5 separate regions of the Homo sapiens genome follow, and regions 1, 2, 3 and 4 are each linked to region 5. The links come from fine-mapping of genetic effects on gene expression. A gene starts in region 5. Each other region holds a variant in brackets. All regions are shown on one strand. Distances are between the middles of the regions. Region 1 has its middle 70 kb from the start of RIPK2. Region 2 has its middle 39 kb from the start of RIPK2. Region 3 has its middle 67 kb from the start of OSGIN2. Region 4 overlaps DECR1 (2,4-dienoyl-CoA reductase 1). Region 5 holds the start of RIPK2 (receptor interacting serine/threonine kinase 2).

Evidence for each region. PIP is the estimated chance that this variant, and not a neighbour inherited with it, causes the effect. A credible set is the group of variants that fine-mapping cannot tell apart.
Region 1: its variant is the best candidate, but not a certain one, in a credible set for the expression of RIPK2 in whole blood (TOPMed, PIP 0.52).
Region 2: its variant is the best candidate, but not a certain one, in a credible set for the expression of RIPK2 in whole blood (TOPMed, PIP 0.90).
Region 3: its variant is the best candidate, but not a certain one, in a credible set for the expression of RIPK2 in neutrophils (CEDAR, PIP 0.60).
Region 4: its variant is the best candidate, but not a certain one, in a credible set for the expression of RIPK2 in whole blood (INTERVAL, PIP 0.70).

Annotation. Positions count from the first base shown.
Region 1 is chr8:89,824,968-89,831,551 of GRCh38, reverse strand. No RefSeq gene overlaps it. Among named protein-coding and RNA genes, the nearest start is that of RIPK2, 70 kb to the right of the region's middle. RefSeq lists an enhancer at 5,167-5,296. The variant G/A (reference allele first, on the strand shown) is at 2,784.
Region 2 is chr8:89,793,925-89,800,508 of GRCh38, reverse strand. No RefSeq gene overlaps it. Among named protein-coding and RNA genes, the nearest start is that of RIPK2, 39 kb to the right of the region's middle. The variant G/A (reference allele first, on the strand shown) is at 2,615.
Region 3 is chr8:89,832,555-89,839,138 of GRCh38, reverse strand. No RefSeq gene overlaps it. Among named protein-coding and RNA genes, the nearest start is that of OSGIN2, 67 kb to the left of the region's middle. RefSeq lists an enhancer at 1,892-1,991. The variant C/GACACAC (reference allele first, on the strand shown) is at 2,559.
Region 4 is chr8:90,002,923-90,008,642 of GRCh38, reverse strand. All of the region lies in intron 1 of DECR1 (2,4-dienoyl-CoA reductase 1), which reads right to left. Among named protein-coding and RNA genes, the nearest start is that of DECR1, 4.3 kb to the right of the region's middle. RefSeq lists enhancers at 2,498-2,557, 2,718-3,027. The variant T/C (reference allele first, on the strand shown) is at 2,657.
Region 5 is chr8:89,754,231-89,760,814 of GRCh38, reverse strand. RIPK2 (receptor interacting serine/threonine kinase 2) reads right to left here and starts at 2,999. Exons shown (of 11, transcript NM_003821.6): 1 at 2,582-2,999. The coding sequence starts at 2,754. It overlaps PARAIL (palmitic acid regulated anti-inflammatory lncRNA), which reads left to right and starts at 3,104. Exons shown (of 5, transcript NR_125822.1): 1 at 3,104-3,770. RefSeq lists enhancers at 1,156-1,245, 2,524-2,593 and a silencer at 3,134-3,253.

The DNA of each region.
Region 1 (6,584 bases), 71 kb before region 5:
GCAGACTCAAAAACTCCTGGGCTCAATCAATTTTTTTTTTTTTTTGAGACGGAGTCTCTCTCTCTCACCCAGGCTGGAGTGCAGTGGCGCGATCTATCTTGGCTCACTGCAAGCTCCGCCTCCCAGGTTCACACCATTCTCCTGCTTCAGCCTCCCAAGTAGCTGGGATTACAGGCATCCTCCACTATGCCTAGATAATTTCACATCTTTAGTAGAGACAGGGTTTCACCATGTTGGCCAGGCTGGTCTCGAACTCCTGACCTCAGGTGATCTGCCCGCCTTGGCCTCCCAAAGTGCTGGGATTACAGGCGTAAGCCACTGCACCTGGCCTCAATCGCTTCTTCTGCCTCAGCCTCACAAACAGCTGGGATCCTAGGCGCAGGCTACCATGTCAGGCTCTGCTATTTTCATTTGATATGTAATCATAAATATTTTTCTATGTTTTTTGGGATATCATTTTTATAAGCCACGGAATTCTCCTCCAAGTTGATGCATAGTTTCTTTTGTTATTGTTTGTTTTTATTCTTACAAATAAGAGTATAGTTAACAAGTTAACATTGCCACACTTATCTTTTCAATTCTGTTAAATTTTATCCTTACGATAAATTCCTAGGTATGTATGTTTGATAAAGAGTAGGTTTTTAAAAAGTTGTCTTTGTTTTTCATAGGTATTTTTTTTTTCTTTTTGAGATGGAGTCCCACTCTGTCACCCAGGCTGGAATGCAGTGACGCGATCTCAGCTCACTGCAACCTCTGCCTCCCAGGTTCAAGTGATTCTCCTGCCTCAGCCTCTCGAGTAGCTGGGATTACAGGTGGCAGCACAATGCCCAGCTAATATTTGTGTTTTTTTTAGCAGAGACGGTGTTTCCCCATGTTGGCCAGTCTGGTCTCAAACTTCTGAAACCAGGTGACTCACCTGCCTCAGCCTCCCAAAGTGCTGGGATTACAGGCGTGAGCCACCATGCCTGGCCTCTTTCTCATAGGTATTTCTTTTATTTAAAAAATTAATAAGACGTGCAGGACTCGGTATGAACAAAGAAAAAAAGGAAATTTTAAAAATAAAAAACCATACAAATAATGCATAAATAAATGCTAGTTGAGAAATTCTCAAGCCATATGGTGAGGCAATTTCAGACAGTATATATTTTACCTACTTTGATTGGATTTGGTCTTTCAGGCTATATTTTCCTTAAGCACATGAATCCTATAATTGAGAGCCTGGCATAGAATCAGTAGCTAAAAGAATAATAGATAATGAGTTGAAAGATGTCTTCCAACAGAAGAGACAGCATAGCTACCATACTTTGCCAAAACAATAAATTGATTTATGGTGTTATAGAGATGCAATTTTAAATTCACTGGTATAAATTTCCAGGTTTGTATACTCACAATGTATACAGTCATGCTTACTATGTTAAGAATCTTTTTAAAGAAACTTTTATAATGTAGTTCCTCATGGATTATTATTTATATCTTCATCAATCCGCCTTTCAGTTTCCTACTCTGAGCTTACTCTTACCCAGGAAAGCTCTTTAAACTAATCTCACTTCTCGTGATCATGAACATCCCTCAGCTTACTCACTCTCAAGGTCATTATTTATTCATTTAGCCAATAGATAATTGCCAAGTCTTCTAGATGCTGAAGCTAGAGCAGTGTCTAAGAGACAAATAAGATCTCTGTTTCTGTGGAGTATTGTTGGAGGAGGCAGATAACACAAAGAAATGGGCATTTTAAGATTGTAATAAATACTATGAGAGTAAAATGGAGATGGGGCCTAAGAGTGGCTCACACCTGTAATCCCAGCACTTTGGGAGGCCGAGGTGGGTGGATCACGAGGTCAAGAGATTGAGACTATCCTGGTTAACATGGTGAAACCCATCTCTACTAAAATTACAAAAAATTAGCTGGGCGTGGTGGTGAGTGCCTGCAATCCTAGTTACTTGGGAGGCTGAGGTACGAGAATCACTTGAACCTAGGAGGTGGAGGTTGAAGTGAGCCAAGATGGTGCCATTGCACTCCAGCCTGGGTGGCAAGAGTGAAACTCCATCTCAAAAAAAAAAAAAAAAAAGGAAAAAAAAACAACAACGAAAAACAGGGAGATGAGACTGAGATTGTCTAAGGCAGGGCGTTGGGGGAAGAGGGTTACTCTCATATGGTGATAATGAAAGGCTTCTGAAAGCATCTGAGCTAAGACCTAAATGATGAGGAATGAGCATTCCAGGTGGAGGGAGAAAATCCCCTGGGGAAGCCAAAGGTTTGTCCTACAAAACAGAAAAAATGCCAGAGGGAGTAAGTGCATGTGGCAGGAGGTGAGCTTGTCGAAATTTTTTGGGAACTGATCATATTGGACAGTGTGGGTCATGCTAAGAACCCACAATAGTTATTATGCTTGCAAGGGGAGCACACTTTGGAGGTTGTTGAATAGGAGAGTAAAATGATGTGATTTACTTTTTAAAAAGATGATCTGGCTGCTGTATGTCTTGTCCAAGATCAATCTCCACCCCATCTTGTGATAACATCCAGTGTCTAGCACATAGTGAGTGCCGAATGACTGAGCACAAATTATCCATTCCATTTCCAATATCTTCTGTATAATCTCTCCTTAACTGTCCTTTCCTTCCCACTTCTCTGACCACAGGAAAAATCCTTATTCATTAAGATTCAGCTAAAGCATTACTGTTCTGGGAAGCCTTTCTGATCTGCAGAGCTGAGTGAAATACCCGCCTCTATGCAGTTTTTGGACATTGTGCTCGCTTCTGTTATAATACTTAACATAATTATC[G/A]GTTAGGTTGTCTTCCCTCCCTATAGTGCTTAGCAAGGCCTATTTCTTATTCTTACTTAATCTTCAGTGACTATGTTAGATGATCTGCACATAGTCTGTTCACCTAAACTGCCCTTAACTGTTGATGTATTTGTTAATCACTTGGTATTACCCAACTTTGAAACTGACTCTAGAGAGGGTGACCTCTCTAGAAAACCTTTCTAATCTCAAGCCAGCTCTGTACTCCCTTCACAATATTGTAGCTTCACCCTAGATAATTCTTATTTTGCATTAAAATCTTGGCTTCCAGCTGGGCACAGTGGCTCATGACTGTAATCCCAGCACTTTGGGAGGCTGAGGTGGGTGGATCACGTGAGGCCAGGAGTTTGAGACCAGCCTGGCCAACATGGCAAGACCTTGTCTCTACTAAAAATACAAAAATTAGTGGGTGTGTTGGTGCACATCTATAATCCCAACTATTCGGGAGGGTGAGGCACAAGAATCACTTGAACCTGGAACAATGAGATTGCAGTGAGATGAGATTGTGCCACTGCACTTCAGCCTGAGCAACAGAATGAGAGCAACTCATTTCATCCAAAGTGGACATAAACCTGTTTTTATTATTAGGCATAAATTATTTGGGGACAGAATTACATCTAACTTATTTCTGAAATCCTGGTCTCTACTACCGTGTCTGGCACGTTGCAAACACAAAACAGGTGGTAATTATTATGAGTCTGAGATTCCCAAAGCCATGATCCACTGATGTTTTCCATTAAGACAAGTTACATCAGTAGAAACAATATTAAAATCCTCCCTTTATAGTATTTCCATTGAATAAATATTTTTAATCAAAATTTATTTTTATCTTTGCAATGATTCATAGAAATTAACCTTTCTATGTAAAAAACTAGATAGGGCAGAAATTTTAGTCATATATTAGAAAAAAGTAATCATCTTTTTGCAGTAGTTAAGAGCAATCTATCTTTTATTTAGTTGGTAAAAATGTTCAAATGTAAATGCATAGAGATAAATTTTCCTAGCTGTGGTAGATAACTCATCCCTCAGACTTGGAAGTGCAAGAAATGCCAAATAGACTGAAATGAAGATTAAGGTAAGTCTTTGGTTTTTATGCTTGTTTTCACACATGCTGGCAGCTATAATGGAAAATTAGGAATTCAGCCACATGAATGTCTGCTCTGTCTCCTTTTGTGTCTGGAAGAGAGGCAGCAGAATGGCCCTCTGGGTGTGGAAGAGGATCAGCTTCCCTATGCTGTTTTCCTTTTCCGTCATTTTGAAATCCATAAAGCATCAGCAGCAAGAACAACAACAGCAAAACACAAGTATAACCTGAAAGCATAGTGTATAGTCAGGGGAAGAAACGACTTTCAATCACAGTTATTTCATGAAGAAAAACTAATGTTTATATGACTATACTGTAATTAAGATTACAAACTCAAAAACTAATGGAGCTGGGTGCGGTGGCTCACGCTTGTAATCCCAGCACTTTGGGAGATCGAGGCTGGTGGATCACTTGAGGTCAGGAGTTGAAGACCAGCCTGGCCAACATAGTGAAACCCCATCTCTAAATTAGCCGGGCATGGTGGCATGCACCTGTAGCCCCGCCTACTCAGGAGGCTGAGGCAGGAGAATAGCTTGAGCCCAGGAGTTCAAGACCAGACTTGTCAACATGGTAAAAATCCCCTCTCTACCAAAAATACAAAAATTAGCTGGTCTCATAATCCAGTCAATAAATAAATAAATAAATAGATTTAAAAAAAACTAGCAAGAACTCAGTAAGGACAGATGTGACACTGCCTCCTGATTGTCCCATCAAAGGGGAAGGAAGGTGTGCGGAGGACCTGAGGGAGGAATGTGCTTCTTCAGACCCTATGTCCTGCTTGTTTCTGGTCAGTCTCTGGCCCAGGATCTTAGGTCTCTCATAGATTTAAGAAGCTTTAAGATGCACTTCCCTTAACTTAAATATGGGTAGAGATCTGTGAATATCCTCAGAAATATGAATATAGAACATGAGTGGGACAGGGGAGGAATTCTTGCCAATAACAGTTTCTGTAAGATACACATCAGATTTACTTACATTGAAAAGAAGAGCAGGGCCTGGTGTGAATCATTCCACTTGGATCACGCTTAAACTGCAGGGGAGGTGCCCTTCCCTTGAGCCCACATTAAAGAGCCTGGGAAATGGGTGTGAAGAATGAGAGGCTTTCGCTATTATCAGCTGGGTGCTGTGCAAACACAGCAACTGGTATTTCTATGTAAGTACACATGGAAAGAAAGGGAGAGAAATTTAGATGGCATATATAAGAGACATTTTTTTCTTTTTTCTTTTCTGTTTTTTTTTTGCTCATTACTCTTGAAAAATCAAAGACCACACAGAAACAAGCCAGTAGCACTGGAAATCCCCTTGTACTTGTCATTTTGTTTAGTCACTTATCAGGAGTCAGGGGAACAGTAGGCTGGAGGCAGACAGGACCAAGTACTTCCAGATTTAATGCAACCACTAGACAAGACAATCAAGAGGAAATGAAAAACTGGAGCCATTTCGTTTACTGGATAGCAGCTGACCTCACTCATCACTGGCAAGAAAAGGCATAGTGTCGCGGAAATGCCATAGTAGCTGGAGTCAGAAGACGTGAGATTGGCTGGCCATGGTAGCTCACACTTGGAATCCCAGCACTGTGGGTGGTTGAGGCCAGGAGTTCTAGGCTGTAGTCATCTATGATCACATCACTGCACCAAAAAAAAAAAAAAAAGGTCTGAGATTGAGCCTTGAGCTCTCCCACTCACTGGCATGTAGTCTTGGATAAATCCCTCTTACATCACTCTGAATGATCTGGTTTACCCATCTCAAAGATAAGGACAATTATACCATGAGCAGCAAAAATTTCATAGGGTTTGTTGTAGTAAATGAAATAAGATTAGCAAAGCTAATTTGTTATTATAATTTCAATAAAAAATAGACTCAAATGATTGTGGGAACTGCTCCATCTTTAATATTCACCATTTCAAACTAGAAAGATTTCCCCTAAATCTTCTTCCAAACATGTCCATACTCTAATCTTATTTCTTTTTGTAATTGGTTTGCTGAGCAGCGTTCTAATTGCCCATCATTTTTCTAGCCAGCTTTAGGGCAGCTGAGATGGCCAAACAGGGAACTGCAGTGTGTGACGGGGGGGATTTTAAGAACATTAGAGCAGAGCGTGTGTATGTGTATTTATTTTTCACAGCTTGTTTTGCTATGCTCATCAAGTGGCTCCTGTCTCTTTGTATTCGTCTACTGAGTATTTTTCCACATAAGTGATTTGCTGTGTAATTATCCTGGCCAACAACTACGTACAGTATGTCATGTTACTTAGCTGCTGCAAGCAAATCCTTTCCCACATCCTGGAAAAGGCTGACTCTTTAAAAAAAATCATTATGTGTATTTAAGATATGGAACATGATGTTATAAGATGCACATATACAGTAAAAAGGTCACTATAGTGGAACAAAGGAACATATCCATCGTCTCACACAGTTACTCCTTTATCCCCCTATGGCAAGAGTAGCTATAATCTACTCATTTAGAAAAAATCCTGAATATAACATTCTATTATTGACTATAGTCCTCACATTGTATATTAGATCTTTCCATTTGTTCATCGTATATATTTGCTAATTTGTATCCTTTGGCCTAATATCTTCCCAATTCCTATCCCACACTCCAACCCTGGTAATCACTGTTTTATTCTCTCTATGTCTGACTGCTTTAAAAAAATTCACAGAAAGCATTTGTGGAGGCTGAGCAAGATGGCTGAATAG
Region 2 (6,584 bases), 40 kb before region 5:
GATTAGCCTACCACAGCCTCCCAAAGTGTTGGGACTACAGGCGTGAGCCACCATGCCTGACTCAGAATCTAGTTTAAACAGAGTTGATTCAAGTGCAAAGTTTGAAGCCGGGCTTCTTGGGAAGCACAGATTCTAAAGAATGGAAGTCAGTGTTCCAAAGTATAGAAGTTTTCACTCATATTCACAAAGTTTAGGGAAGTTTAGCAGAATATCAACACCTTCCTATGTTAGGCTTAATGTATAGTTACAATGATCTGATTTGTTGAGGTGGTATTTTTCTTTCAGGAAAGGCACGTCAAGCTGAAACAGTCAAACGGATCAGAATCAAGTTATAAAGAGTTTATTAAAGTGAAAAGCTGGGAATGGCTATTTAAAAGACACAGACTCCAGAGAAATGGGGTCAGGGCTCTGAAGTTAAAGGTTCTTATATAGACAGAAAATAGAGTAGGATTATATATAACATTTTCTATACAAAGCTTGTTTTTGAGTTATAAACATTTAATTAGTTATAGTTCATTTTGTTTTCCATACAGCTTGTTTTCATGTCCTTTCCAATTTAAAAGAGTATTTTTAATATTCCATCTGAAGACAATGTGATAACCATAAAGCCTTTTTGTGAGAAAGATAAGAGGAAGTTAATCTATAATAAAGATCAACAGGGAAGAGGGAAGGGGTCTTCCCTGGTGCCCTTTAGTAATATATAACATTTTAGAAAACAATGTAGGTGAGGAAGGCTAATCTATAATCAGAGCAAGAAAGGTTACAGCTGCCTGTCACATGACTCAGTCCCCATAACCTCACATTTCTTTAAGGTTCAAAGTAATTTAGAGTTCCAACAGCTTGGATTTCCAATTACCTATTTTCAGAGGTATATTTAACATTTCACACTGAGAATCTAATAGTTATGGGGTCTTTTGCACCATCTGGTCTGAGTTAGGTATTGAACAATAAAGGAGGCAGTTAATCTATAACAAAGATCAGTAATTGCAAGTGGAGAAAGGTCTGGTCTCTAGTCTCTTCTAGTCATTTACAGAACAAGAACAATGAGCAAGAGAGTTAATCTATAATCTAATTGCAAACATGCTTCATGACTCAGTCTCCAGAGCTTAATTTCCCCCTTGGCATGATAAATTTAGAGGGTTCTGAGATTTTTTATTTTATATTATCAATAGTAGTTCATTAATTTTAACAAATACACTATACTCATGGAAGATGTCAATAGTAGGGGGAACTGGGTGCAGAGTATATGGGAACTTTCTACACTAGCTTTTCAATCTTTCAAGAAATCATGAACTATTCTAAAAAATTAAGTATATTTTTAAAAATGAAGTATCTTAGTGTCCTAGGACTATCATTAACATATTACCGTAAACTTGGTGGCCTAAAATAATAGAAATTTATTCTCTCACAGTTCAGGAGGTCTGTAGTCCAAAATCAAGGTGTTGGCAGGGCCACACGCCCTCTGAAGGCTAGAGGGGTAAAAGTCCTTTGCCTTTTCCTTTTCCAGCTTTTGGTGATTCCAGGCATTCTTTGGCATGTGGCTGTGCCATTCCTATCTCTGCCTCTGCCTTCCATGGCCTTTTCTTTTGTCTGTGTCTTCTCTCCTTTTTTTCTTTTCCTTTTTTTTGAGACAGTGTCTCACTCTGTTGCCCAGACTGGAGTGCAGTGGTGTGATCTCAACTCACTGCAGCCTCTGCCTCTTGGGTTCAAGAAATTCTTCTGCCTCAGCCTCCTGGGTAGCTGAGACTACAGGTGCCCGCTGCCACGCCTGGCTAATTTTTGTATTTTTAGTAGAGATGGGATTTCTCCGTGTTGGCCAGGCTGGTCTCAAACTCCTGGCCTCAAGTGACCTGCCTGCATTGGCCTCCCAAAGTGCTGGGATTACAGGCGTGAGCCACCATGCCCAGCCCTCTTCTTATAAGGACACTTGTCACTGGATTTACGGCACACCCAGTTAATCCAGGATGGTCTCATCTTGAGATCTTTAATTTAATGACATTTGTAAAAACCCACTTTCCAAATAGGTCACACTCACAGGTTCTGGGGATTAGGACTTCAGCAGATCATTTTGGGGGCAACCAGTCAATACACAACCTAAAGCAATAATAGTAATAAACAAGACCATACCAGTCAATATATCAGGCATGATTTTGCCTATAACACTGAGGAACAAGACAGATTTATTTATGTTTCTAAGTTAAATTGAATGTGGCCCAGGCTCTAACCTGAAAGGGTTGGTGGGAAGTCTGAATCTCCGCCTTTTTTCAGGGTCTTGGCAAGTGGAAAGGTGAGAATGCTCAAGCTCTGAGGGCCACGCCTTTAACCTGCAGTATTCATTGTGTTTCTACTTGCTTTTTCCTCTACATGCTAGTGTTGTGGGCCACTGGTCCTTCCTGACATGGACAAGCCCAATCTGCCACTATTCAGTTTCCTTGCCCTTTGCCCCCTATCCTAGCACCTCTGGAGTACTGTGTCTGATTAGTGCTGTCAAAGTCAAATAAAATATAAAGATGAATCTCTGAAATTAAAATATTTTATTTGGCAAGAAAGAATTGCAACTAGGGGCATACACACAGACCGGGTTGTCTTTGGTATATCTAAAGAACAAAGAGAA[G/A]GTTAGAGCTTTTATAAAAAGGAGAAACATTACATACCACTACTCTAGAAAGTTCATTGGCTCAAGTAAGGTTTTGGGGAGCTAGCAAGCTTTTTGGTGAGTGATGGTGGTGGGTAAAACTAGTCTTAGAGGTGCAGTAGATTGTTTCAGTAGCCTTTAGATAAAACTGGTTTCAGGTTATAGCAGGCAGTCTCAGCAGCCAAGCTTGCAGAGAATTACATTCTTGGAGCAATGGTACGTGGTCTGATTGCGCTGTTTTAGTTGGGTGTGACAAGAATGACCCAGTTTGTAAGGTCAACTTTTGCTGTGGCTACAGTCTCAAGCAAACTTTTCAGACTACCGTCAGGTAAGTCATTTCACAATCAGAGCTGCAATAGGACATTCGTGGGCCCTAGGTGTTACTGGAAAGGTGTCCTTATCCAGACCCCAAGAGAGGTTCTTGAACTTTGTGCAAGAAAAAAATTCAGGGTGAGTCCATAAAGTGAAAGCAAGTTTATTAAGAAGGTAAAGGAATAAAAAAATGGCTACTGTATAGACAGAGCAGTGGCATGGGCTGCTCAACTGAGTATACTTATAGTTATTTCTTGGTTATATGCTAAATAAGAAGTGGATTATTCATGAGTTTTCCAGGAAAGGGGTGGGCAATTCCCAGAACTGAGGATTCCTCTCCCTTTTAGACCATATAAGCTAACTTCCCTAGGTTGCCATGGCATTTGTAAACTGTCATGGCCCTGGTGGGAGTATCTCTTAGCAATCTAATGCATTATAATTATATTATAATTAGCATATAATGAGCAGTGAAGATGAACAGAGGTCACTTTTGTCACCATCTTGGTTTTGGCTGACTTCTTTACCACATCCTGTTTTATCAGTAGGGTTTTTATGACCTGTATCTTGTGCCAACCTTCTGTCTCATCCTGACTAAGAATGCCTAACCTCCTGGGAATGTAGCCCAGTAGTTTTCAGCCTTATTTTACTCAGCCCCTATTCAAAATGGAGTTGCTCTGGTTCAAACACCTCTGACATAGGCACTTATGCTTTTGTGGCTCTGTCCTCTATAAAAGATATTAAAATTATTTTTTACAATTGCATTATTATAAAGATATATGTAATCTAAACTGTTCATTGTTATATATTCATTTTTTTCTTCTAATTTAAAAACAATTAAAATTAAAACATTGTCTTGGGACCAGGCTCCCAGTACTAGCTTCCATATTCCTTAGAATGAATTCAGTTAGATTAATGAGCTTAAAATTCTAAAACTATTAACTCTCTTCTGGAGTCGAAATTAATTCGGAATTTTGAGTCCTTTTAACTTTGTCGGGAGGCCTATGCAAAATATATCTCATGTGTTTGTGATCAGGCTGTGCCCAAAACACTAAAGAGTTAATTTTTCAAAAAATTTTTTTCTTGCCCCTTTAGACTTTGTACCATTCCACTAAGGGGCACTGGTGGAAACAAAGGTGATGGGCATCCTGCCAGTCCTAAGCATCTCTTAGTATGATGAGGAGTGCATCAGTCACAGTGAGAAGGCAAAAGCTCAGCAACATGTGTTTAGTGAGGGCAGGAGACTTCAAACTAGCAATGAAAAGTACTTGCAGTTATTTTGTTGGTAGCTTCCCTGTTTGCTCAGGGTTGCTAAATACATCCAAAAAGGAATCAACCAAAGATATGGAAGCTAGAGGCTTGGACTGGTTATCTACCCTAACAAACTCCCAAGTTAGGAGTCCTAGTGAGAAAAAGGACAGTTTTCAAGAATGGATGGGTTCTGGGTTATTATTATGAGAATCATAGTTTAAATGTTTCTAGATCATTAGTTGCTTCTATTTTTTAACAATTTCTCCTAGTTTTGAAGATAACAAGTCTCTCTAAGGGTATTATGTAAGTATTTTAAAATTATCTTCTGTCTATTCTTTAATTTTCTTAGTATTTTTTTTTCAGATGTGGAATTTGGAGTTTCTTTATTTGGTTGGCATCCTTAAATCATGGGATTTTGGTGGACAGAGAGTGTCTTGCACCAGATTTTATAAGCAGAGCCTGAGCAATATCCATTTAATATTTTAAGAGAAGAGGCATGCCCCATTTTAATAACTGAATGTACTTGTAGCAAAAAAAGTGGATTTATATTGAAACACACATTTTCGATGAAAACACAAGCCAATTCTTTAAAAAACTGCCCAGATATAGAGACCATGTAGGCTAAATTTGTAGATTCCATATTTTTTATGTTAAAAAAGGAAACTCTTTAAAATATTCCAATTATATTCATTAGTGATTAGATGAATGATTGTAGTTAAATAGTGATGAGCTTTGTCAAATTGAAGGAAAGAAGGCTTGTGGTAATTTGCAAACTTCATGCTTGAATGGCTCAGCACAATCGACATTTTAATTAGTAACTTGGATGAAACTATAAAAAGTAGGTTTGTCAAATTTGTGGATGACAAGCTGGAAGATTCCAGATTTAGGGATAAAAAATGTATTGAATAACTGGAACTAGGGATGAATTAAAAAAAAAATAGAGATAGGCCAGTGCAGTGGCTTATGCCTCTAATCCCAGCACTTTGCACTTTGGGAGGCCGAGGAGGGAGGATCATGAGGTCAAGAGATTGAGACCATCCTGGCCAACATGGTGAAACCCCATCTCTACTAAAAATACAAAAATTAGCTGGGTGTGTTGGCACGTGTCTGTAATCCCAGCTACTCGGGAGGCTGAGGCAGGAGAATCGCTTGAACCCAGGAGGCCGAAGTTGCAGTGAGCCGAGATCGTGCCACTGCACTCCAGCCTGGCGACAGCGAGACTCCGTCTCAAAAAAAAAAAAAAAAAAAAAAAGAGAGATAAAGGCAAATTGTTATATATGGGCCTAACAATCCAATTTACCTATTTGAAAAGTGGAGAAATAAGGCAAAACAACACAGGTGTACAGATGAAGAATTTGTTAGCTGGTAGTTAAATATTAATTTGACAATGACATGTGACTACTATAAAACGGTGCTTTAGCATTTTATTTAAGGATAAGGGAGCAGATATCCCAACTGTGATGGCAAGACCTGAGTAGGAGCACCATGTTTAGTTGTGGCTACCATACTTTGAGAGGAATATAGACCATGCCACTTAAATAACCACTGAAGTAAGTAGGAATTATTCTGAGGCAGAGAAAAAAAAAATCACCAGAAATAAAAGAGCTCCTTGGAAATATATAAGATGCTGTCATAGAAGAGGGATTAGATTTACCCCATAAAATATTCCAAGGTTTGTAATCAGGATGAGTTGATATATACTACAAGGAAATCAATTTTTATTTTTATTTTTTATTGTTTTATTTTTTTTTTTAGACAGAGTCTTGCTCTGTCGCCCAGGCTGGATTGCAGTGGTGTGATCTCGGCTCACTGCAACCTCTGCCTCCCGGGTTCAAGCGATTCTCCTGCCTCAGCCTCCTGAGTAGCTGGGACTACAGACGCACGCCACCATACCCGGCTAATTTTTGTATTTTTAGTAGAGACGGGGTTTCACCATGTTGGCCAGGATGGTCTCGATCTCCTGACCTCATGATCTGCCTGCCTCAGCCTCCCAAAGTGCTGGGATTACAGGCTTGAGCCACCGCGCGTGGCCGGAAATCAATTTTTAAATCAGTGTATGAAAGTATGGATAGTACTGTCTGGAGATGAAATAAATTGCCTGACAAGGTAATAAGCTCCCCCTTTATCTGTGGAAGTGTTTACTCATGAGATAAACGTCTATTAACATCTTTCCAGTAGAGGATTTTGAAGCATCAGATGCACACTTGTTCCTTTCAACCCATTCATTAATTACATGACATCAAATTTTAAACAAAGAAATAGGTAACAAAATAGAGGTCGTGTAGAATAAACTCCTTGAAAAGGATGAAAAAGGATAGATAGGTTAAGTAAAGAAATTTTGTTTTTAAAGGTGTTTGAAAAGAAATGATCCAGTGGAGAGAGAGAAAAAGCA
Region 3 (6,584 bases), 78 kb before region 5:
CTAGGGGGAGGGAGGAATGGAGACCAACTGTTTAATGGTACCAGGTTTCCAGCTGGGGTGATGAAATGCTTCCGAAACTAGATGGATGTGCTGGTTGCACAACACTGTGAATATGCTAATAGCCACTGAATTGTTCACTTCAAAGTGTAAATTAATTTTATGTTATGTGAATTCCACCTCAATTAAAAAACAGTATATAGAGCATAAACCTATTTTTTGGAAAATATTTAGACCCACTTTTAATTAGAATAGTTTTACAAGTAACTTGATAGTTCTTAATAATAAAACACTGAAGGCTGGGTGCGGTGGCTCATGCCTGTAATCCCAGAACTGGGAGGCCAAGGCAGGCGGATCACCTGAGGTCAGGAGTTCAAGACCAGCCTGACCAACATGGAGAACCCCTGTCTCTACTAAAAATACAAAATTAGCCGGGTGTGGTGGCGCATGCCTGTAATCCCAGCTACTCAGGAGGCTGAGGCAGGAGAATCACTTGAACCTGGAAGGCGGAAGTTACGGTGAGCCGAGATCGCACCATTGCACTCCAGCCTGAGCAACAAGAGCGAAACTCCATCTCAAAATAAATAAATAAATAAATAAATAATAAAACACTGATTTTAAAATCACATGACTTTGTAGGGTATCTGTATATAAATCCTGAAATTCTCTGTCTGCTATAGATAAAGTCCTGTGTGTTTTATAGCTGGTTAATGTGATGCATAAAACAGCACTGTGAAGCTTTATGTCTAACCAGGACTAAATACATATAGGTTATGAATAGTTTTCGAATTTGTTTTAAATACAGTTCTGCTTGGTAACAAGTTAACTGTCCTCCTAACATGAAATGAATAGATTTTTAATGGAAATAAGAGAAACAGCTATCTTGATTTCTTGACCCTTTCACAATAAGCTACAATACATTATATAAGGTTTATTTTAACAATACACAGCTTAAGAGTTGTCTAGCAAGCACAACCCACAGATATTTGAATCTGATACTTTTTACACCTGCAGAAGGTTTATCTATGAAAAGCCTGCAATGATGTGCAGCAAAATGTTCACAGTGCTTATTTTTTCTGCACTTATCTGTAGTGAGTTTATTTTGTGATTATCTGTACCTTTTAACTTTTCAACAATGAGTATGTGTTACTTGAACAAAGATACACTTTTTATAATGTTGTCCATGCCTCCATATTTAACCTGCTATTCTTTCTTTGCAATCTCAGATATAGTCTTACTCTTGAACTTTATTGCCAAGTACAAGGACAATGGCTTTCTCTTTGCTTCCTGGTGACACTTTTAGGCAAATATCCTCTTTTCATCCTTCAAAAACCTGCTCTCAAGCCATGTCACTCCCAGGCATCTCAGCCAACCGTGAATGTCCTTGGGGTAAAGAAGAGCAGTATACAGATGCCAGGATACCCCACCACATTTCTGCTTTCATTGACACGCTCAACCTCAATCAACTGTATCTGCTCTTTATTCCCACACCTCATGGTGGAGCTTTCTGCCTCTTCCTGATCCAATAGGGCAATCAATCTGATGCCTTCATCTCTGGAATTCTTGTTTATGGGTTTATGAATTCTTGTGAAATTCAATATCCCTTAATCTCTAAAGGTAGAGATTTTAGGTAACTCCAGAGGGTACGTAAGGCCTTGTGAATTAAGGAAAATTGCCCAAGGTCACATCACTGGACAGTCATGTCTAGCTAGAATCCAGACTCCAATTCTAGGGAGTCTGGTTTATTTCTGTAAACCATAATGCCACAGATGTGAAGCCTAATTCAAGAACATCTCCATGGCAAACTCTTGTTTTAGTTAGAGAAATAGGAAAACATGACAAAGAATGTGTCATCGACTTCTATTTAAACGTTCAAGTTCCTCATCTTCAAGGATTTGCTGGATGACAGCTAACAAACAGTCAGATTGGATGATTCACAAAGACCGTTTCCAGTGTTTAAAAAAAATATGCTGGGGACTTTCATAGAAATTTCTACTTTTCTGAAAGCATTTTATTTCTTCATCTTTCTCTTCCTGCTCATATCCACATTCTTGTTTTCTTCCTGCTGACTGCACATAAACAGGATGTGTGGAAAGCAAGTCTAAAGAGGTAACTAAGTGAAAGGTTCACCGTTGATGTAAATCAAGAGTAGATCAGTGAAGTGGAAACCAGCAGAACTGCTTTACTGTTAGTATTCAGAGACACTAGCAAAAGAAGCTAATGTTGGTTCATTGTGAGCTAATAAAAGCAATAACCACTGGAAGATAGAGCTGAACTTTCATTTACTTACTTTACTTTTACTATGGTAATATTACTTAATAACTTTCCTTTAATGAACTCATTAAGATCATAAGCGAGTGCTTTTAATATTAAGTATGCACCTCCCCCCCACCCAAATTATACTGGTTGAATTTTCATGTTAAAATAAAGCAAAAATAAATATTAATATAAAATATTTAATCAAATATTTTAAAAATTTCAGTAGTAAAGTAAACCAACTCCAGCAGAGAAAGGGTTATCACACACACACACACACACACACACACACACACACACACACA[C/GACACAC]ACACCCTATCTGATGAGTTCTCTTTGCCAATAAAACAAACCAACAAACAAAACTGATCAAGAAACAAGACTATAGCTGGGCATGGTGGCTCATGCTTGTAATCCCAGCCCTTCAGGAGGCTGAGGTGGGCGGATCACCTGAGCCTGAACCCAGGAGGCCAAGGCTGCTGTGAGCTGAGATGGTGCCATTGCACCCCAGCCTGGGCGACAGAGCGAGAACAAAACAAAACAAAAGAAACAAGGCTATAGACAAGTCTGAGCTATTTTAGAAAATGGCACATGGTTGTTAATATCCAGTGAGTTCTACTTAGATTTTTCTTCTGTTTTTTCTTGTTCAACACCCAAATCTGTTAGTCAAGAGTAGTAAAGCCACTAAGTGTATTTTGTTGTTGAAGCTACAACATACAAGAAAAAAGAAAACATAGAAAGCAGCATTACTGAAACACAATTTTAGGAAACATTAATTCTCAGTATTGTGAACTAACTCCAAGAGGTATTCCGACGGACATTACCCCCATCATACTTTAGGATGTGGAGGACCTTTAATTAAAAACCCCAAGGAAAAAAATTTAATTATTTCCTTTTTGGAAAAAATCCATAGTTCTATCAGCCTCATTGTTCAAAAATTCTTTCATTTCCTCTCTTTCATGGTGAAATTCCCTCCTTTGTCTTTGGAAGTGAATTTGGTTATTACCTTTTGTAAATATTTTAGATTATCTGTAGAAAAAGGGAGAACCATGAATAGAGTCACATTCTTGAGCTATGATTTGAGATACTTATTTGCCCTTAAGAAACATTAAATTTCTTCCTTGTTTTAGTAAGAATGCTTTATTTCCTTTAATGCCCAGGGGGTATGTTGTCACATTTTCACTTTGAAGATAGAAATTTCCCACACTTTCCCATACTGAATTAATATTGACATTCATTAACAAGACTAGCAACAAGTGTCAAAATATAAATGATTACAGCCCCGTGAGCAGGAAGGTAGAAATTACTTACTGTTTTTCCTTGGGGTGGTAATTAGCTACTGTTTGCCGTCTGTAAAATCACAAGTAAAATGTGGATTATGTTTCATGAGATGAAAAGAACATTTCAAACATAATATCTTGAGTTAGTTCTCACAACACCTCTGTTAGAAAGTATGAACATCACCATTTTTACTGACAAAGTCATCCACAGAGAGGATAACCAAGTAGAAAGAGGATTCAAACTCCTCATCTTGACTCCAAACTGTAAGATTTTTCTACAGTGCCTTCTTCCTTCCCTCCCTTTCAAAGTTTTGTTTCCTCTCTTTTAACTATTCTTACTTCCAATTCAAAGGCAAAGCATTTGTATAAATACATTCGCAGACTTTTCTTATCTATAATGGGTGATTTCTAGTCCCCTCTTTTGAGTATTCCCAAAGCTGAGGGAGAAAGGATGCTTCGAATTAGCTTTTGCTGTCAGTTACACAGATTTTTCTTTCCTCATTAACCTGAAGGAATCCCATAAACATAATTTAAGAACGGTAAAAATGGTTTTTGACTTTCTTTATTTTCATGTCTCCTTTCTCCTCCTCATTCTGTATTCTGGCGTTGGAGAAGAGCTAGAGAGAACATCCTTAAAGATGCACTTTTTTTTTTTCAGTATGCCCTATTTTTTTTGATAAAATTGTGGTGAAAAACTCATAATATAAATTTATACTCTTAACCATTTTTAAGTGCACTATTACAATAGTGTTAACTGTATCCACATTATTGGGTAACAGATCTCTAGAACTTTTTCATCTTGCAAAACCGAAATCCTTTGCCCATCAAATAACAACTCCCATTTCACCCTCCCCTTAGCTCCTGGAAACCACCATTCTACTTTCTGTTTCCGTGGTTTCCCCTACTCTACATAGCTCTACATAAGTGGAATTATACAGTATTTGTTCCTCTGTGACTGGCTTATTTTACTAAGCATAATGTCTTCAAGGTTCATCGATGTTGTAGCATATAACAAAATTTTCTTCTTTTTTAAAAGGCTAAATATGTATATGACACGTTTCCTTTATCCATTCATTTATAAACGGAATTTCAGGCTACTTCCACATCTTGGCTCTTGTGAATAATGATGCATTGAATATAGGTGTACAAATACCTCTTTGCGCTCTTGCTTTATATTCTTTTGTATTTATACCCAGAAGTGGGATGCTACCTCACATGGTAATTCTGTCTTTAGTTTTTTGAGGAATCATGCTGTTTTCAAGAGCAGCTACACCATTTTACATTTCTACCAGCGGTACACAAAGACTCAAATGTCTCCTCATCCTCACCAATACTTGTTATTTTCTGGTTTGTTGATAGTGGCCATCCTAATGGGTATGAGGTGACATCTCATTGTGGTTTTGATTTGTGTTTTACTCTAATGATTAGTGGGTATGCCGTTTTAAAAAGAAATTAAAATTCTTTTCATAATTGAGTACATATTATATTCTAGGAACTGTGCTTTGTGTGTTGCATGCATGCAATAGCTTGTTACTTTTAACAAACATTCTATGGCCTAAGTAGTATTATCCTCACTTTGTACCAGAGGAAACTGAGAATCAGAGTTTAAGTGATCTTTCTAAGGACAGAGAGCTGCTAAATGGTAAGGCCAGAATTCAAAATCCGGTCTGATACCGAAGCTCATATTTCTAACTACTGAGCTATTCTCTCTTGGCCTTTTGCTTTGCCCATTAATTCCTTAATGTGTTGTGTAGGTGGCTAACACACTGTTCTTCAAAAGGAAACAGAAAGTAACATTAATTAAGTGTCTGTTTTGTGCTGGACACATTGCTAAATGCCTTCAGATGTGTATGTGTACATGTGCGAAGTGAAGGAGGAAAGTCCTTTCATTTTACACATTGAAGCATAAATCCATTTGCATGGTTACTGTTGTAAGTCAAGTAGTGCAATGAAAGGAAAATTAAGCTTAGATTTCTTACCATATAGTCTTTGTAAACTTGAAGGGCTTTTTTTACTGGTAAATACAATCCTAAGATATATGTATAAATTCCAGACAGAGAAATTCTAATTCCAATTAAGGAGTTGATTGTACCGGTGTAAAGAGGGAATCTTATCAGGAAGAGGATACACAACCAAACACACACACACACACACACACACACACACACACACACACACACAGAGGAAGAAGAGGCTTAGCTAGGGATACAAGGAAGCAAAATAAATGATTACATAAATGTTGGAGCTACCACATGGCCTATTTTCTCTGACACTGCTCTTTATTCCACTATTTTTCCAGTGTAAGATGTTTACAGCTTCTTCCGTTATGGTCACCTTATTCTACTCCACTGCATGGCCCCATCTTGTTATGTAGGTGATATATAGCAATGGGTCCAGATTTATAAGTTTAGTTTTGCTTGTGTAGCAACAAATTCAGAGCTGATTGTGACTTTTAAGATCGCCCTAAGCCCCAGGAAAATTGATCCCGTGAAAATACAACTCTCAACTGTCTTTGGGAACCTCCTAATACTGGAATCTTTAGCCCAACCTTCGCTTGATCATGAAAAGCATCAAGTGAATGGGAAACTAAAATTATTATTTATTTATTATCATTTTTTGAGATGGGGTCTCATTGTGTTACCCAGGCTGGGCTCAAACTCCTGGGCTAAAGCGATCCTCCCAGCTCAGCCTGCTGAGTGACTGAGACTATAGGTGGATGCACTGTGCCCACTAAAATTACTTTTAACTGTGCCTTCCAACTAAGAAACACATCTACTCCCACCCCCAATTATCAGGATAGAAATCTCTTGGGATCTACTACTGCAGTTATCCCAATTTGTAGCACTGATGATAATCAAAAACATCTCTAGGTAGAAAAGTATAAATATCTCAATAAACTTATTATAAAAGAGGCAATAGAAATGCCTGTTGGTATTTATGACATTCATGAAGTGCTGCCAATGATGCAGGAGCAAATGAGCTAGTTAACATTTGTAGGCAAATATGGTATCCTTTACAGCCCTCTTCCACTGAATGAAAGAGGCAGCCTGGTGAGCTT
Region 4 (5,720 bases), 250 kb before region 5:
GCCCAACAACATGAGCTTGGACTTTTGTTCTTGATCTATTTCATCACATTTTTGCCTGTTTCATTAACAGCATATAAACAGGTCTCCTGTTTACTGAAAAGAACTGAGAGAGATTTTTCTACCTCTCTCATCTTTACCTCAATATCCCTGTTACATCTGCACTGCCTTTGTGTTCTAGAAAAATTAAGATTTAAATGTGAGCCAGAAAAAAGGAAATGGAGACTCATCAGACAGAAGTCATTAAGTGTACATGAGAGATACCGAGGGCAGTAGAAATTAAGAGAAGACAACATATTCCACACACATTTAACATGTAAATTAGCCTGAACCCAGAACCCAACCAGCCAGACCTGGCAAGTAAGGTGAGAGCTGTGGAAGGTAACTGAGTTCTAGTTTTAAGTGGCTGCATGCAGAGTGATGCTCTGACTGAAATGACTGGGTTGACATGAGAAGACCAAGTTGGAGCATTGAGGATAATGAGTTCTGCATCAGAAATGCTGCACTTGGGATGCTTCTGGAATAGTCAGGTAGAGATATCTAAGCTGCAGTAGGAAATATGGTTTTGAAGCATGAAGAATAAATTAGGGCTAAAGGTAAATGGCAACATCATTTCATCATTCCAGCAATTATGAAAGCCTACAGTTCTATCACTGCTTTTATGTTACAATGCAGTGTGAGGGTTTCCCAGACTGGAAGGGATAAAAGTGCAGTTGACCTTGTATTCTAGACTTACTTATCATTACCCTGGCACTTCAATCTCAGAATGATTCATCAACTTAGGAAGAGAAGAGCGCAGGACAGCTGAGAATGCTGATCATTTTCTACCTAGAATTTTCTGCAAAAACTAAAAGTTGCTAAACATCTATTGCATGCTTTCTACCATGGGCTGTAAGAAACTCTGGATAACTTTAAAATTCCCCCCTCTTTTGATGTCATTATCATGACCTTTGGGAGATATCTGAGATCTAGATTATTTTTTGTAATAATATAAAGTTTGCTTTGTAGTTTGGGCAGGAAGTTTGTTTGAAATTTCTTCAAATGCATCCTTAAGCTACAAGGCCAAGATTCATCCATTAACCCCACCCCCACCACCTGCCCTGCCCTGCCCCACCTTGGTGACTCCCTCTCCTCTTCACCTGATACATCCCATCCGTCTATAAGCCCCATGCCTTTTACCTCCCCAGTGTCCCTCTATATCCACCACCTGATTTCAAACCCCTATCTCACAACATTCACAAACATTGGGGGCCTATTCTGTGTCATCTTTTAACTGATCTTCCGAGGACTGCTAATGGGATCATGTTACTTCTCTTCTTAAGATCTTCTAAGGGCTCCTGGTAGCTGCAGAATATCCAGATTCCTTCGCTCCCCATAGCATATGTCTTCACGACCTAGCTCCTGTCCCTCTCTTCTGCCTCATCTCCCCTGAAATTTACACTCAGGAAAACAAAGTACTCAGGATTCCCCAAACATGAACTCTTTCCTACTTTCCTGTCTTTACACAAATTGCTCCCTATCATCACCCAACATTCATCATTGAAACCCAGCTGTGAGAGCTCTGGTGCTTTCCCTAACACTCCCAGGGAGAATTAACATTCTCTCCTCTACTTCTGTAGCTTATTTATCTATATACCACTTGAGGAGTCCCAGACCCTACTGACATTTCAGGACTGATGTCACTTACTCCTCTTCTCCCTCCAGCCCCCACTTAATGTCCTCACTCAAGAGAGTGGCACTGTCCTTAGCTCAGGGGCCAAAGACAGAAATCTGGGCTTCATCTTACCCCATACATTCAAACCAAGCCCAGTTCGTTTTAGTCCCCAGTAGCTCTAATGCTATCCTCAGTTCAGACCCTCATCACTGGTGTTTGGATGTTTGGTCTCCCTACTTCCAGTCTTACCTGATGATATCGTATTTCTGCTCACAATTTTGATGGCAACATGTCACCACTGAGCATAGCCCCATCTCTCATCCTCACCACCAACCAATCACCAAGGCCTCTGATTTTACCTCCTAAATATCACTCAACTTTGAGTGTCTCCAAACCCAATGCATGCCCTCGTTGAGGCCACCATCACCTCTCAACAGATGAGAGGATTACTCAGGGTTTAGCCATTTGTCTCCACTCCCACCCTGCAGGACAAAGTTCTAACTCTTTAACGCAGCCAACAGGCTGCTCACTAAGCTGTCTCTCACCTCCTGCCTCCCCACTCTCTGTTGATAACCTTTATGCTGGGCCTTCACATAGACTACTCTCCTGTTTAAAACATTCTTACATCTCTCCCTTTGGCTAACTCCTACTCATCTTTCAGGTCTCAGCTTTGATATATACCAAACAACAACACTCTCATAAAACTGGACATACCTCCCCCATGAGCAGGAGATGCTTCTTCCCCAGTCCTGACATCTCCCTACTGTGAGAAGTTCAGGTAGTACAACTCCAGGCTTCTTTCTGTCCCCTTAGTCAACCTGCTAAGGATGTTTGGATGTTTGTCCCTTGAAAACTCATGTTGAAATGTGATCCCCAATGTTGGAGGTGGGGTCTAATGGGAGGTGCCTGGGTTATGGTGGCAGATCCATCATGAATGTCGTAGTACCATCTTCATCCTGGCAGTGGCAAGTGAGTTTGCACTCTATTAGTTCCCACTAAAGCAGG[T/C]TGTGAAAGAACCTGGCACCTCCCAACACCCTCTCACTTCCTCTCTTGCCGGCACCTCCCAACACCCTCTCACTTCCTCTCTTGCCGGCACCTCCCAACACCCCCTCACTTCCATCTCTGCAAACTCCAGCTCCCCTTCACCTTCTGCCACAAGTGCAAGCAGCCTTAGGCCGTCACCAGATGCAGATGCCCAGTCTTGAACTTGTCCAGGCATCAGAATCATGAGTCAAACAAACCCTTTTCTTTATAAATTACCCAGCCTCAGGTATTCCTTTATAGCAACACAGACTGAGGTACAATCTGTCTGTGCAGAGACAGTTGATATGACTGGTAAATTTTGACAGGATCGTTGGGTATGAACAGTTCTCCTTGGTCTTCTTCCTTTTGGGAGCCAGCTGCCTTCAGAGGACAATGTTCTGCCCTCCTCCAGAGTTATGTAAGTCCGCCTACTTCGGGAGATCCAGCTGATAGGCCCAGCTTCCTCTCACAAACCACAATAAAAGTGATACTTTGGCTTCCATCTTTACTCATTTTTCAGACTGGAAAAAACGGATGCTATTTATTTGGGATCCCATCCAAAAGCAAGAACACCCAACCTAACATGCGGCACATCATACCATAATGCCATTGGACTCTATGCTTCTTGACAGCAGGAATCAGCTCTTCTTCTCACCTTCATATCCCTAGTAAGGTGCCTAGCAAATAGTAAATGCTCAATTTTCTACATAAATAAGAAAAGCCCACCATACCCTGTCCCCCAGCAACCTGACTGATCTCGTCTCCACACGCTTCTCTCTGTTCCCATACTTCACCAACTCCACAATACCAAACAAACCACTTGAATTTTTATAAATAAGCCACTCTTTCACTTCTTGATACATGCTATTCCTTAGGTCTATATTGCCATTGGGACCACACAAATTCCAACTCCTGATTTAACAGCAGGCTCCTGGGGCCACCTCCTCCATGAAGCTTTCCTTGCCTCCTCTAGGTATGTACAGTTTGGGTCATATATGCATTATAATACACATCTGCATCTTCACAGTCTATTGATGTCTGCTGGTGACTCACTAGACTATCATTTTTCAGATTTTTCTGACTGTGAACCATAGCAAGAAATGTGATTTATATAGCAACATACACATGTTCATAGCAACACAGTACACACGTTCATTCATGTAACAGATATTTGTTACATGTTTACTCTATGCTAAGCACTGTTCTAGGTATAAACAGTGGACAAAACAGTTGAAAATCTTTGCCTGCATAGAGCTTATATTCCAGAATTTTACACTGAATAAAGAAATACTTAGGCTTCCAGATTTAAAAAAAATAAAGAAAACACATCTAGTTGGTTTTATACTGCTCCAAGACAATATTCATCGTGAGAAAACAATGAAACAATGTTGACTAAGGGAAAATGTGACATCCAAGTAAAATTATGCCTATCCATCCTTTTACCAGAACAGATGCCTGGAATGATATACACCAAATGCTAACCCAAGTTAATTCTAGGTGGCCAGTTTGAGGTCATATCTTACTTTGTTAACTGTATTGCTGAATATTGGCCAGGAATCATTTTTCTAAAAATAGTGATTTTACTCTTGATAGTTACTATTCTTTTTTTTTTTTTTCTTTTTGAGATAGAATCTCACTTTGTTGCCCAGGCTGGAGTGCAATGGCGTGATCTTGGCTCACTGCAACCTCTGCCTCCTAGGTTCAAGTGATTCTCCTGCCTCAGCCTCCTGAGTAGCTCCTGCCTCAGCCTCCTGAGTAGCTGGGATTACAGGCACGCGCCACCACGCCCGGCTAATTTTTATATTTTCAGTAGAGACAGGGTTTCACCATGTTGATCAGGTTGGATAGTTATTACTCTTGATAAAAACAAAAGGAAAAGAAACATGGCAGTGTGCATGATAGTAATCAAAGAATGAATCAAAAAAGGAAGAATGGTAAATTTTTTTTTTAAAGTTTCACAAAATGAACAACCTTACTACATGAGATGAATTTAGATATATCCTATTCTATTCCATTTTTTTGTTTTTGAGATGGAGTCTCACTCACTCTATCGCCAGGTTGGACTACAGTGGCGCGACCTCAGCTCACTGCAACCTCTGCCTCCCAGGTTAAAGCGATTCTCCTGCCTCAGCCTCCCAAGTAGCTGGGACTACAGGCGTGTGAAACCACACCCAGTAATTTTTGTATTTTTACTAGAGACAGGGTTTCACCATGTTGGCCAGGATAGTCTTGATCTCTTGATCTAATGATCCACCCGCCTCAGCCTCCCAAAGTGCTGTTTTGCTCCACTAAATTGATTTCAAGGCCTACTCATTGGTTATTATTTGTGGCTTAAAATACATATATGAGACTATAGTACATTGAAGGCAGGAATGTCTTTCAACCACAAATTGCCAAAGAATGCCCAATACTTAATAGGTACTTAATTAATTAGTGTTTCCTCATAAACAACTGAATGACTGAATGTTTTCCTCAATAGAACTGAGAGCAACTTGAGAACAGTTGAGAGCAGGGCTCGTATTTTTTAAATTTTGAGTCCCAGGGCATAGCACAGGGCCAGACATAAAGCCAGTCCTCAATAAATATTTATTAAATTGAAATGAGGCCTATTAGCCAGCAGCACAATTTAACACAGCACTTCACAAACAGGTTTTATAACAAATTAAACATTTGCCTTGGTTCTTGGTAACAAAAATATTCAAATTAGGGGTTTTAATTATAACAACTTGTATTTGCCCACAAAAACATGATGTTCCCTGGAACAACCTCCCACATCACAGATGTAAAGACTTTTCTTCTCCCAGGAATTCAAACTTGAGGCTACATGTGCTAGGAAGGGGACAAACCACACTAACAGGTACCTCTCTTGCCTCCCAACCCTGAACCTCAAAACTTCCATATTTTTCTTCAGCAAAGGAATTTCAAAATTGTCAGATTACAATTAATTTTTAAATGAGTTCATTTTCTCCTTCTCAAACTGTATTGTCTAATGGTGTCAGAAGAGCTTGGATAAGGTCTGTATGACCTTATTGCTACAATCCTAATG
Region 5 (6,584 bases):
TTAAGAGGCATTCTTCTTTCCACTGTGACCCTATTACATGTCAGTCACTTTATATGCACTAGCATCTTAAGATCACCCTCTAAACATAGTTTCATTAGCTCCACTTTATAAATGAGGGCACTAAGGCTCAGAAAAATTAATACTTTTCTAATGGTCACACTAATAAGTGGCAGGGTTGGCGTCAGATTTGAATTGCAATCATGGGACATTAAAGCCTGCATTCTTTCTACCCTATTGCTTGATCAAAGAATATAGTAGGAAAGTTCTTGAAGGTAGATTTTTGGCAAGATTGAGTGAGTGGGAAATTTTTTTTAAAGCCAAAAGATTTTAAAAATTGATTTTTACATTTTGAAAATAAAGGTGTAAAGTACAGCTTCCATAGTCACATCACCAAAATTAACTCAAAAATTTAATCAGAAAAGTTATGTCATCTACAGGGTATTTGAACAACCAATTGGACTCATTACTCATAAGGGGTGGGAAGATTGTTGGGGAAGGTCCACTCATCGGATAGAAGTCAGGTTATGGAGACTGATTCACCAGTCATTAAAATAAGAGCATGTAACATTGCATAAACTTATTTTTTTTCAGGTCATCCCAAAGAACAATGCAAACATTGTTCTCCATAGTCCGAGAAACACATGTATTTATTATTCGTATTTTATAAGTGAGGAAAGAGACACCAGTGAGTCAACTGCATAGCCTCATCTAATGCTCAGACTACATAAATACTGCAATGATAAGATCTTAAGTAACAAATTGGAGAAAAGAATGTGATGCAGTAAATGCCAGAGTGTTTCGCTGGTCTTATGGCTTCCTCGAAGACAGAATTAATTTCCTACCCAATTCAGTGAAGAATTTTAGACTATGAAAATTGTTCATGAGTATGGGAAGGAAACTCCCTCTTCACTTCTTGGTCCCCAAACTGCACAAAGCTTAGATAAATCAAAATCCTGAGAAGCAGCACCCAAAGTGGGAGGATCAATTGGCTTTTCAATACCTAATGGGTCCATCAGTGCTACATTTCCATATAGTGTTTGCATAACTGGTTCTAACATATATCCACCCTCTCTAACCAACCACCACCCTTAAAAGTTGACTACAGACACATATACACACTTGTCCAGCACTTGCTCCACAGAATATAAGGCCTGGAGTAAACAGACACCACACCTTGTATATCACTGAATCTGGATTATGATAGACAAGAAGTGGAAACAAGCTCTAGAAGTGTCCCAAATCTCCTGTGCCATTTAGGCCATCGAAGCCTGACAGTGAGAGACAATGAAGAAAAGCCACAGGCAGGTGAAAATCCAGTAACTTTGGCAGGGCGGAAGCTGAGGAATTTATCTGATGCTGGATACTCACAGCTTCTGGCCAATCAGGCATCGGGGATGACGTATTTTCACATTAGATATAGGAGGAGGAGAAGAGAATGTTGTAATCATGGATGTTAACTCACTAAGAACTGAATGCTGGGCCTAGTTAAATCCCTGTAGGAAGTAAAATACACAAGACTAGTGACCCATTGACTAATACACAGTCACAGGTCTATGGCACGCGGTTGTAATGTTCTTCTGAAAACAGAAACTAATGCTAACCTTCCCTTAAAACCTGTACAAACCAATAAGTGAAAGCCATTTACAATTTCTGGCCATTTAACAGTCTTTTGGTTCAATTTATTGTGGCAAAAATAGCACACATTTCCTCTACTTAATCTTCCCTGTGAGAGAAACTGAGACTGGGAGAAACTGAACTGCTAGTATTGAGTTTGATATAAAACGTTCCTGACAACACATAATAAACCAAAACCAAAATAAAAACAATAAGAAGCAAAACATCCTTGATTCTAAAGCAGTGCGGTCCAATAAACATATAATGTGAACACCACCACATACAATTTAAAATTTTCTCGTGGCCACATAAAGTAAAAAGAAACACATAAAATGAATTTTAATCTTATATTTAACCCAAGATATCAAAAATGTTATTTCAGCATATAATCAATAAACAAATAATAAAATATTATAAGTTCTTTTTTTAATAAATACTAAGCATTCGAACTCTGGTATTTTACACTTAGGTCACACTTCAATTCGGACGGGCACATTTCAAGTGCTCAATAGCCACCTGTGGCTAAGAGCTACCTACTGGACAGTGCAGCCCTACAGCCCAATTTCAAAAATAAGGAAAAAACAAAGCAAACAAAACCCACACCCACTATATATAAACACACATCAATTTCAGTAAACCCAGCGTTTAGAGTTAGGCAGTGATTGCTGATTTTTGGAGTACGGAGCCAGAACGCCTAGGAGTAAGAGGGAAGGAGAGAAAGGGTAATGGAGAGATGTGTGGAGGAATGCAACTGCTGCATCTCCAGAGAAGCCTGTGCTCCCTACGGTGCCAGAGCTTGAAGGGTGGGTGCTCCCTATCTCCCAAGCTTGAAGGGCTCCCTAGAGGTGACGAGGTGAGGCCGGCCCCAAGCGGTCACTGCCATTTGGGCTCTAGAGCCCGCTTGTCAGGGGGCTTGAGGGGATGCAGGAGTTGAGGGCTCTTCCAGGGAACCCCAGTGACTGCCTACCTGTCGAGCAGCGGAGTGTGGATGTGCAGGTGCTTCACGGCCACCTGGACGCGCCAGTCTGCGTGGCGGGCGGACGACACAGTGCCAGAGGCGCCGCGGCTCAGGTAGCGCAGGTCGGCGAGTTTGTGGTAGGGAATGGTGGGCAGGGCGCTGCAGATGGCCTCCCCGTTCATGGTCCCGGGCGCTCAGGCCGGTTCCGGGTGTGCCCCCTGCTGCGGCGGCTCCCAAGGCTCCCACGCCGCGCTCAGGCGCCCAGATACGCCCCTGCACGAGCGAGGCCGGCAAGACCCTTTTTGCCCCGCAACACTAGGTCACGAGGGCGCCCATTCCCCGGATGGCCCACGCCAGCCGCTGCTTCTCCGAACCAGAGCTGACTTCTTTTCTAGAGACTGGTGCCAACGCCGTAGCGCCGCGAAAGAGCTTCCTCTCTCGCAGCCCCGGCCCTCCCCCCGGCGCGCGCAGCGACCAGCTCCGGCCGCCCGAGCTCCTCCCTCCCCAAACTTCGCAGGTTACGTCAGCGGCGGACGGCAAGGCGGGGAGAGGGGCAGCCCGCTCGCGGCCCTCCCGCCTGGCTCTCGCCTCGGCCTGCGGCCGGGATCCTCCGCCCGGGTCGCGCAGCGGAGGCCGAGGGCTGGGACGGGCGGCTGGGAAGTGGGAAAGGGAGCTCCTTTTGTCTTCTCTTCCCATCCCCCAGGTTTGGGAAAGTTTTCCTTTTGGGAAAGCCCCTCTCTTCAGCCTGCTGGCGGGTGTCGGATTGGTTAGCGACCACCGGCCCCCGCCTCCCCCAACAGGATTCTCCTTTGGGCCACAGGTCTTCCGGAAGTTGCCAAACCCCGGTAGCGGCAGCGTCCGGCTGGGGGCTTTATTAGGGGGCACCGGGGTCTGCTTTCCGACTCCCTTCCGACTCCGCGCCTGCGCAGGAAGCGATTTGGGGAGTGTTGTGAATTCCGAGGGCTCCACACTTAAGAGGTTGTACACTCACCTGTCTACCTGGACTCCAATTTCCATATTTCCAGCCACTTGAGGACTGAGAGGTGGATGATAAACCCTGTCATAGTGGAGCAAGTTCAGGTGTTTAACCGCTGTTATGGGGGATCTGCCTTTTCTCCCTCTTCTTTCTTACTTCCATAAGTATGTATGTGCAGAGATTGAAAAATAACCTTGAGAGAGTCCATCCATCTAACTCCAGGTAAGACTGCAAATATTTCTTTCTTATAAATCTGGGAGGAATGCAGTCAGTGTTTCATGCCAACCAAAAAAGACTGCAAACGTTTTTCCATCCTTCTGCCTTGAATACCTTTCTACTTAGATGACTATTTTGTAAGACGTGAGTGCAAATGTTATATACAATACCAACTCCATACTAGATGTTTAATTAATTCTAGGGATTCAGTAATAAGGAATGACTCGAACAGATTTCTGCCTACAGACAGCTAATGCTTCTTGTATTTTTGCATTACCTGAAATGAAAGTAGCAATGTTAGATTTTACAGTAGTGGGAGGTTGTAAACAATAGTATGTTAAACATTTTTGATCATTTATAATAAAATGTTCAGCACTAAACATATGGTCTGATACTCTGTGCTTTATTGCTTAATAAGCTTTTTTTTTTCTTTTCGAGAGGGAGTCGTGCTCTGTCACCCAGGCTGGAGTGTAGTGGCGCGATCTCTGCTCTGCTCATTGCAACCTCTGCCTCCCTGGTTCAAGCAATTCTTCTGCCTCAGCCTCCCAAGTAGCTTGGATTACAGGCGCCCGCCACCACACCCAGCTAATTTTTGTATTTTTAGTAGAGACGGGGTTTCACCGTGTTGGCCAAGCTGGTCTCGAACTCCTGACCTCGTGATCCGCCCACCTTGTCCTCCCAAAGTGCTGGGATTACAGGCGTGAGCCACCGCGCCCGGCCAATAAGCTTTTTTCTTAAAAAGTACTCAGAAGACTTTTCTATCCATTCATTCTGTTAACGCGCGTCAGTGTGAAGAGACCACCAAACAGGCTTTGGGTGAGCAATAAAGCTTTTAATCATGTGGGTGTAGGCCGACTTAGTTCGAAAAAGGAGTCAGCAAAGGGAGATAGGGGTGAGGCAGTCTTTATAGGATTTGGGTAGGTAGTGGAAAATTACAGTTAAAGGGGGTTTTTCTCTTGCGGGCAGGGGTGGGGGTCACAAGGTGCTCAGTGGGGAGCTCCTGAGACTCATTGTCCAGGAGAAGGAGTGTCACAAGGTCCATTGATCAGTTAGGGAAGGGCAGGAACAAATCGCAATCGTGGAATGTCATCAGTTAAGGTAGGAACTGGCTATTTTCACTTTTGTGGTTCTTCAGTGGCTTCAGGCCATCTGGATGTATACGTGCAGGTCACAGGGTATATGATGGCTTAGCTTGGGCTCAGAGGCCTGACATGTTTATCCAGTCAATTAATTAAAAACCTGAGTCCTAGAAAAAGAGAACAAAAAATAAACAGGGAAGAAATGATCAAAATAATAATTTAAAAATTTTTGCTAGGGCAGGAGTCTTCATATTTAAAGGGCCCACCAAGTAAAAAGACCTACATTAAGGCACATACATCATTAAAAGGGTGAGAACACTAACACTAAAGGGAAGATTCTAAACGTTTTCAGAGGGCGGAAACAAAAATTAAAGAGATGGGAATTAGAATGGCATTGAATTTCTTAACAATGTTACTAAGTCATTGTTATCCTGAAATATAATGAAGTGAAATTTTTCCAATATTCTGAAGGACAGTAACTTCCAACTTAGAATTCTATAGTCAAACTTTCCGTCAAATGTAAGGGCAGAATAAAAACATTTTCACATATACAAGAATGAAATACTTTCTTTCCATGTCATTTTTTTTTTTTAAAGAAAGCTCCTAGAGAATGTGTTCAGCAAAACATGGGAGTAGCCCAAGAAAAAGAAAGACATGAGATCCAGAAAACCGGACCAGGAAATTAAGAAGGGAAACTCCAGGATGAGAGAAATATGGCAGAATTGGAGAGCAACCCATTTTCACTGAACAGGGAGATGGCAGACTTCAAGAGAAAACAGTAGTTACAGTAATTGAAATGATAGATTATCTAATTTTGAGTATTTGAGAAATTATATTGATAGATGTTTGATAGATCTAATGAACTATGGGATAAAATTGGAGAATGAATTGTAAAAAAAAATACAAGTAAAAAAAGGAGACAATTGTTAATTCCATGAAAATTACATCAGAAGGGAGACAACATTTCTCTAAACTGTTTTGTGGTGGTGAAAAATGTAGAACTTTTCAGAACTTTTGAAATGCTAATATGCATCTCTAAGAAGGAGAGAGCATGAAGCATAGAACTTCATGGAATTTATTTGTATTGTTAATTACATTACTTTTAAATTTACTTTTTAAAACCATATCACATGGTTTAAAATTTAAAACAATAAGGACTCATAATGCAATAGAAAAATTGAGAAGAGGACTTAGATACCTTGAAAAAGAGGTGAAAAGGTTCTCAACATCATTAATTATCAGGGAATCACAAATTTTATTCACATTGCAACACTACTATCCAAACAGTAGAATGAATAAAATTAAAAAGACAGAATATACCAAGTGTGAGTGAGGATTTGGAGCAACAGGAGCTCTTGTACACTGCTCATGGGAGTGTTGATTGGTTCAATCAATTTTGTAAATTGTATGTCAGTATCTATTAAAATTGTAGATATGCAGATCCTATGACCCAGTAATTCCTTGCTTCGGTATGTGGACATGTGTATGCATCTACTAGAATGTTCATAGCAGTGGTGTTTATAATAGCCTCAAACTGGAAATTACCCAGATATCCATAAATAGTAGAATAGATAAATACATTTTGGCACATTTATGCAATATAATACTAAATGGGAATGAAATTAAACAGTGTACAAATATAATGTTGGATGAAAAAAGCCAGATACAGAAGAGTACATATTGCATGAGTCCATTTGTATAAAGTACAAAAATAAATAAAACTAACTTATGCTTATAGAAA